Homo sapiens: one gene and its partner. The protein of the gene in region 2 interacts with the protein of the main gene of each other region in a biochemical or structural test. Each region holds a gene or a part of one and is shown on either strand. Other genes may lie near its edges. The genes, in order: CEP152 and ASB7.

Region 1 (3,821 bases), about 52 Mb from region 2:
GCCTTAAACAAAATTTTATTTTTTGTGGTTAGGTTTCCATCACATTTTTCTTTATGGCTTTTGGATTTACTATCTTGCTATTTTTTTTTTTTAAAGAAGTCTCTTTTGTTGTTCTGAATATTATACTAAAGTCTCTGGTAGCAGTGATAATGAGTGGTGATTAATAAGTTAAGGTATTAGCTTTTATTTTAAGTCTCATTTAAAATATGTATTACCTTTTTACTATATATATTTTTAACCACATTAAGTTGATCAGGTTTCCCTTTATGTCTGAAATCATTTCTTAAAGTCTTTTATAGTTTATAGTTCTGATAAGGAAAACTTATACCTTCTTCAGTGGGGGAGATTTTGGTCTTTTCAGGTATTTTTAGATGTCTTCTTTAATGACATGTTTTGAATTTAAAATAACATTAAAGATATATACTTTGATATTTTACATTCTCTTTAAAAACAAAACCCTAAGTATTCTCTATCTGAGAAAAAGTAGCTGTCTATTTAAAATATTAGTAGCTACATTTTTAGCAATAGGCTCTTATAAATCTTAATGTTCTTTTTCAATAATCAACATCAGTTGATGGCAGGTTAATAAAGGATGGGAACAAACCTCTCTTCTCTAACTTAATGAAGGAGAAAGTAACCCAAATTCCATATTTCGTCTTGTATTTATATTTGAATGAAAGAAAGGTAGAAGACACAGAATTCAGAAACAGAAAGGATTTTTTCTGCCTGGAGGATTCAGGAATTTCTTTAAGGTCCAGCTTAATTTCATCTCTTTTTTTTTTTTTTTTTTGAGACGGAGTCTCGCTCTGTCGCCCAGGCCGGACTGCGGACTGCAGTGGCGCAATCTCGGCTCACTGCAAGCTCCGCTTCCCGGGTTCACGCCCTTCTCCTTCCTCAGCCTCCCGAGTAGCTGGGACTACAGGCATCTCTTTTAAGGACATAGGATTTAATTGGGCTAGTATTTTCAATATATATAGTGTTCTGTAGAATATTAAGTCTATTTGCATAGTGGAAAAAAATCTAGAGACATGAGATTGTGTGTTTTTCCCTCACCATTTCATGTTACAGGCTTTTTATCATATTCATATCTTCATCTTATGTTGACATACAAAAGGATTCTTATAGATAGATTTATTTTCCTCGATATGCATGTCTCTTCCCCCGTTTAGCCCTGTCACAAGGGTAGAAAGGAATAGGTGTGGTCTGAGAAGCAGAGGCTGGAGGGTTTTAAGTTGAGGTATAGTCTGAGTTGATATGAGTTTAAAGGGACGGGTTGGGTGTAGGGACCAGAGAGGAAGGGATTAGAAGGTAGACTGCAAATTAGAGGTTGGCCAAGAAACATAACTCAGTCTTTGAAAAACAAAAACTTGTCATAGGGGGATTTTTACCACTGAAGTTCATATGTATGTTAATCTTTAATACCATATTCATCTATTCTAGCTTGCATATTTTCTTTTCACACTTTAATATCTACAACATAGACTGCGTCCTAAAATTAATGTTATGTCATAATTTGATTGGCTACATCTCGTTCCTACTGCTACAAATGGAACTGCATCATAGAATCAAAGACATCTTAGATCTGATGAAATGGGATATTGTCTGCTCTAGAGCTATTGGCTTCCACAAAAGTTTGTGATATAGTTCGTATCTGTTAAGACGAGGGAGCTAAGTTCTCTATGGTAAAATGCATTTGGATTGCTGGGTCTCCATGCTTCTGATTTTACTTCCAATTTAATGACATTTTAGAGCTTGAAAGGTGTAGTGAATGAGTTGTGGCTCAGGCTCACATCCAAGTGCGTTTCATTGGCATGAACAACAGTGGACTGAATGGAGGGCAGTGTTAGGCCAGGTAATTGATGACACCTGCCTACTTTTTTGTTGTGATTGTTCAGAGCTTTGAAGTTCTGAGGAGTTTATGTATAGTGTCAGGATCCCTAAGTACAAGTTAAATCAGCAGCAGCTTTTTTGAATGTAAGTAGTTGAAAACCCATTTCCTGCTGCTGCTTCTGCCGCAGCAGTCACTGCTCCCCAGGGAACTCTTGCTGTTGCTTTTGGAATTGGAAGTCCACAGTGGTGGAGCTTCACAGCCTTCACTTCTGTTTTTCCCGAGTATATTGCCAGAACCTGATTTTATCAAGCTTAAGAGGAGGACATTTAAGACTTATATTTTGTTGTGCACTCTATGGCATTGACTGAATTGTAAATGGTTTCTGGGTAGTAGTCATTCACTCATGATTTAGGGGCCTTCTTCTTGTAAAGCATGATATTTGGATTTCTGATATTAAAAAAAAATGAAGCAATAGGGTACTGCCTGTGCCATGTTTAATATATCACATTTGAAGTTTTGTTTGAGCTTAAGATTTTTACATTTGGCACATTTCTAGTTTATTATTATTGTCATCTTATTTTTCATGTCGGCAAAAATCTTACTGTTTTATACTCTTCAGACCACTAGAAAGGTCTATTCATAGCTTTATTACCTATTTGCATGTTTTCTTTTCCATGAATTGCTGTCATATAGCTATTTTCGGTGAATCACCATTATTTTTATTGGCCATAACTGAGTTATACATATTTTCTCCCAGTCTGTTTCTGTCTTTTCACTTTGTGTATGTATGGCATCTCTTATGTAGTTTGTCCTGGGGAGATTTTATGTGGTGTCCAGAAACCAAACATCTTTCCCTTCCCACAGGAGGACCATGTCATTAGACTTTGGCAGTGTGGCACTACCAGTGCAAAATGAAGATGAAGAGTATGACGAAGAGGACTATGAAAGAGAGAAAGAGGTAAGTTGTTAAAAAAAAAAAAAAAAAGAGACACTAAACCCAATCTTTAACAAGTTTTATTTCTTGATCAAAATTGTATCATCTTGTGTCATTTTGAAGGGATTTGGATTTTTTAAAAAAAAAACAACCCTAAAATCTGCTTGCTATTTAGACTGAAAAGGTGAATAAGTGGAATGCTTCTGTTTTTGAGACAGGAATAAAACACAACTGTGAATAATACCATCAGATAAATGGTTAAATTTTTCTTTTCATTTAGGAGGTAATGGTTGGCTTTGGAAGTGGAAGGTTAGTTTCTAGGTGCTTGAAACATTGCCATGAACAAGTCTGACAAGGCTCTTTGCTTTGGGTAGTTTACATCCTAGTGGAGGCAGACAATAAACAAGTAAACAAGTGAGTAAAGTAATTTGAGTGAGTGATAATTTATCATTGATAAATGACAGGGAAACAAATTGGAGTGCTATGAAAGCAATTGATAGGGGATTGCTGTAGATGGGGTGGTGAGGGAGGGTCTGTGGGAGGAGGCAATATATGAGCTGAGACTTGACTCATGAGAAGGAACCAGCCATGCAGAAGCCTGAGGAAGAGCAGTCTACGCCAAAACACCAATGAGTGTAAGCTGGGAAGTTGGGAAGAGACCCCGTGTATGCCACAGATCATGTGGAGCGGCCAGAAGGCCATGGTATTGGGTATATATGAGCCAGTGTTGGGTGGTGGATGTGGGTGTCAGATCATGGAAAGCCATGATAAGGTGTTTGTATTTTATTCTAAGAACAATGGGAAGCCAGTGGAGGATTTTAAGCAGGGAAAATTGATATCATATTTTTGAAGATCTTTCAGAAGGCTGCATGGTGAATAGATTATAGAAGGAAAGGAATAAAAGGGAGAGACCATATTATTTATATGTAAAGTGTTTAGCAGAATTCTTGGCACATAGCAAATGTTCAGTAAATGGTGGCAATAGTAATAGCAGCAGTAATAGTGTTATTGGTGGAAGTCAATTTAGTTGTTTTGGTTGTTTTTAGTGTAAGTCAA
Region 2 (3,821 bases):
AAAACTGATCTTTTAAACAATCTGGTTTTAAACAAAAAGGCACACTTATAGCAAATCTTCACAAAGGAGAGAGAATAATATGTTGAGTATTAACAGAAGAGAAGCATTAAAAATTACAAATAGACACATTTTAAACTAAACATCATTTATGTTTCTCCATGGGGAAAAAGATTTGCTTCTACAAAACTCACCTCCGTGTTCTAGAAAAACCCGAACACATCTTTCCTTTCCTCTTGCTGCAGAGAAATGAAGCAGAGTCCAGCCATTCGCATCTCGGCCATTCGGGGAATAGCCTTGTTCTAGCATCTTTCGCACTGTGTGGACATCCCCAGCAGCCACCGCGGCCTGAATCTGCAACTCTTCCTGGAGCTCAGGGTTCCTTCGACAATGATGGTGTAACATCCTAGCTGAGTCCACTTTTTACAAAGGATTCATTAGGTTACGGGGATCAGCCTTTAAGAAGAGAAGGTAGAAAAGGTAAAATTTAGAATAACTGGTTCCTGATACTGCATCTATTAAATATCACAGAACATTCCATTTGCTACATCAGTAAACCTTACTAATGACAGTGCATACTACTAGCTGGGTGTGGTGGTGCAAGCCTATAGTCCCAGCAACTCAGGAGGCTGAGGTGGGAGGATCACCTGAGCCCAGGGGATCAGTCCCAGCTACTTGGGAGGCTGAGGTGGGAGGACGACCTGAACCCAGGAGATCAAAGCGGCAGTGAGCCATGATAGCAACACTGCACTCCAGCCTGGACCACAGGGCAAGACCCCATCTCAAAAAAAAAAAAAAAAAAGTAGCAATATATTTTAAAACCTTAAGAATCTAAACAATCAGGCCAAGCACAGTGGCTCACGCCTACAGTCTTAGCACTTTGGGAGGCCAAGGCAGGCAGATCACTTGAGGCCAGGAGTTTGAGACCAGCCTGGCCAACATAGTGAAACCCTGTCTCTACCAAAAATACAAAAATTAGCCGGGTGTGGTGGCACATGTCTGTAATCCCAGCTATTTGGGTGGCTGAGGCACAAGAATTGCTTGAACCCGGGAGGTGGAGGTTTCATTGAGCTGAGATTGCGCCACTGCACTCCAGCCTGGGCAAGAGAGTGAAATTCTGTCTCAAAAAAAAAAAAAGAATCGAAACAATCTGGTGATTAACCACATGATCAAATTACTAAAAGGAAAAGTAGTACAGTGAATTCTCATACTCTCTAATAGGTCACAAAAAAGGACTGTACTAAAACCCAACATACAATGAAATATCTGGCCAGGCACAGTGGCTCACGTTTGTAATCCCAGCACTTTGGGAGGCCAAGGAAAAAGGGACCACTTGAGCCCAGGAGTTCAAGACCAACCTGGACAACACAGTGAGACCCTGTCTCTACAAAAAAATACAAAATTAAAAAATTAGCCAGGCATGGTAGTGTGCACCTGTAGTCCCAGCTACTCGGCAGGTAGAAGCAGGAGGATCACTTGAGCTTGGGAGGTTGAGGCTGCAGTGAGCTGTGATTGTGCCACTGCACTCCAGCCTGGGATACAGAGCAAGACCCTGTCTCAAAAATTAAAATAAGAAAGTAAAATGAGACCTCCTTCATGGAAACAGTAACAGTCCAAAGTGAAATGGTAAAAAGTTGCATCTTACATGTGTGTATACAAAAACATTTTTAGTGTGTTTTTAAGCTTTTAACTACATACAGAAAACTAACAAGCTTCCAGAAAGCCACTCCAGGTGTGCTAACTGGAAGGAATAGATTAGACTCATCTCTTAACTAGTAGTCCCTTTGTTTCTAAACATTTTTTAAACTGTGATGAAGCCCTTTAAAGACATTTCTGTTCTCATATGTAGGTTAGACATATCAGGATAATCTTGCTACCAACAATCGTTTATCTTGCAAAACTTACTATAGACTGTACAAAAGTAAACTTAGGCCTAGGTTAAGTCAAATCATTACAACTTAAGAATACAAATATCCTATGTTGTTTTATACATAGAAAATGGTGTCATTACCTACTCCTAAGTATCACAACTAAGTGCTCAAATTTAAAAATATCAAGCTACTTCTACAAATAGCTATTTCCTCAGAGAAATATGGGAATAAACAAGATTGCCTCTTTTTTTTTTTTGAGACGGAGTCTTGCTCTGTCACCCAGGTTGGAGTGCAGTGGCGCGATCTGAGCTCACTGCAACCTCCACCTCCCGGGTTCACACCTTTCTCCTGCCTCAGCCTCCCAAGTAGCTGGGACTACAGGCGCCTGCCACCACGCCCGGCTAATTTTTTTGTATTTTTAGTAGAGACGGGGTTTCACCGTGTTAGCCAGGATGGTCTCGATCTCCTGACCTCGTGATCCACCAGCCTCGGCCTCCCAAAGTGCTAGGATTACAGGCGTGAGCCACTGCGCCCGGCCACAAGATTGCCTCTTATTTCTTCTCTCAATTCCTTCACAAAAATTGTCCCTTCTTAGAAATTTTAAAATGAGAATCCTTTCAGAATAGGTTTTTGCTTATTCTGTTATGAGAGAAAATGCTGAAGACCGTCTGAAGGAATTAATGGAAACATACTATGCTCACAATCATCCTTAACAGCTTTTCTTTTTAATTAAGTGATTATGTTGGCACTTAAACGAGGCCTACCATGCAAGAAAAAGACTGAAACAATATCAAAACAAACCTGGGTTTTCTTTAGTGAGTGGTGTATTTAGTATACATTAACTGATTTAAGAGAGAAGTAAAAGTTAAGTGAGCTTTCCCCCGGAACAACACAGATGACCAATGACCCTGAGGCAACTTGCCTTATGGAAGAGTGTCCCTTCTCCTGATGTACGGATTGCCTAGTAACCATTGTGCACGTACAGCATCGTGGGGAGGGGCTTCAAAGTACGTCCAGGCTACAGAGCAAAAAAGCCTTCTTAACCTAGAAACAAATAAAAATAACAATCATAGGAAAATTCCTTAAAATAATAATCATAGCTGTCTGCATAGTCTACCTTTTGATGAATGTAAACTTCAGTGCTTTACAATAAATCTATAGAGCAGAGAAAGAACTCAGATCAACTCTTACAGAAAATAATCTTGTTACATATGTTCATCTCCAATAAATACTATTTAGTTTCAGGCTTTTCCCCCCAAAATGCAGCTATTTGAGAAAGAGCAAATAAAAAAAATAATAAATCACATATTTGGAATTTGGATGCAAGCATAGATTCTTCATTTTCCTCTATTGAGAATACAGTTTCAGACTTGCTTTATCTGAATTACTTTTTAACCGACACCATAAGTCACCTGCACTTTCTAAACAGGACTTAAATGAGAATACGTGTGCATGAAATATAATAGGTGGCCTGGGTTAAAATAAAATCTATGACAACTAAAAGGAGACTGTGTCTTTAAATGCATTTTCTTCATGTGCCCTAAAGGCATCAAGTCAATCACTTTGAAATTGTTATTCCTTTATGCATACACCGAACTAGATAAAACATTAACAACAGCCTTGCCAGGTTCCCCATGTGAATTCTGAATAAACTCTCTCCACAACTAAAAGAAAAGGGATCTTTCTTCGTGTCAATTAAATTCCAGCTCTGTTAATTCCAACAAAGTTAAGGACACAAAGTGACTTCCACATAAAACTCTAGGAATTACATATTGGGAGAACTACTACCTCATCCCCTGACGGTGGGTGAGCATCACTTAAACCTTCAGACAAGAAAAGGTCGGGCCACTTAGCAACCTGGCCCGCAGCAGTTGTATGTCCTGCTGGCTGCACACCAGAATTTTCAACCAATCCAAATTGGTATAGTCCACTTCTCTCTTTTCCTCTATTCTC

What was found.
Region 1: the proteins of ASB7 (region 2) and CEP152 interact in a test that uses a peptide from one of them, tested with the Homo sapiens proteins (one study listed by BioGRID).

What each region holds. Positions count from the first base shown.
Region 1 is NC_000015.10:48,804,531-48,808,351, reverse strand, and holds part of CEP152 (centrosomal protein of 152 kDa), read left to right. Parts: intron 1-2,695; 5' UTR 2,696-2,702; coding exon 2,703-2,789; intron 2,790-3,821. UniProt on the Homo sapiens protein: Necessary for centrosome duplication; the function also seems to involve CEP63, CDK5RAP2 and WDR62 through a stepwise assembled complex at the centrosome that recruits CDK2 required for centriole duplication.
Region 2 is NC_000015.10:100,608,798-100,612,618, reverse strand, and holds part of ASB7 (ankyrin repeat and SOCS box protein 7), read right to left. Parts: intron 2,913-3,821; 5' UTR 2,791-2,912; intron 454-2,790; 5' UTR 403-453; coding exon 192-402; intron 1-191. UniProt on the Homo sapiens protein: Probable substrate-recognition component of a SCF-like ECS (Elongin-Cullin-SOCS-box protein) E3 ubiquitin-protein ligase complex which mediates the ubiquitination and subsequent proteasomal degradation of target proteins.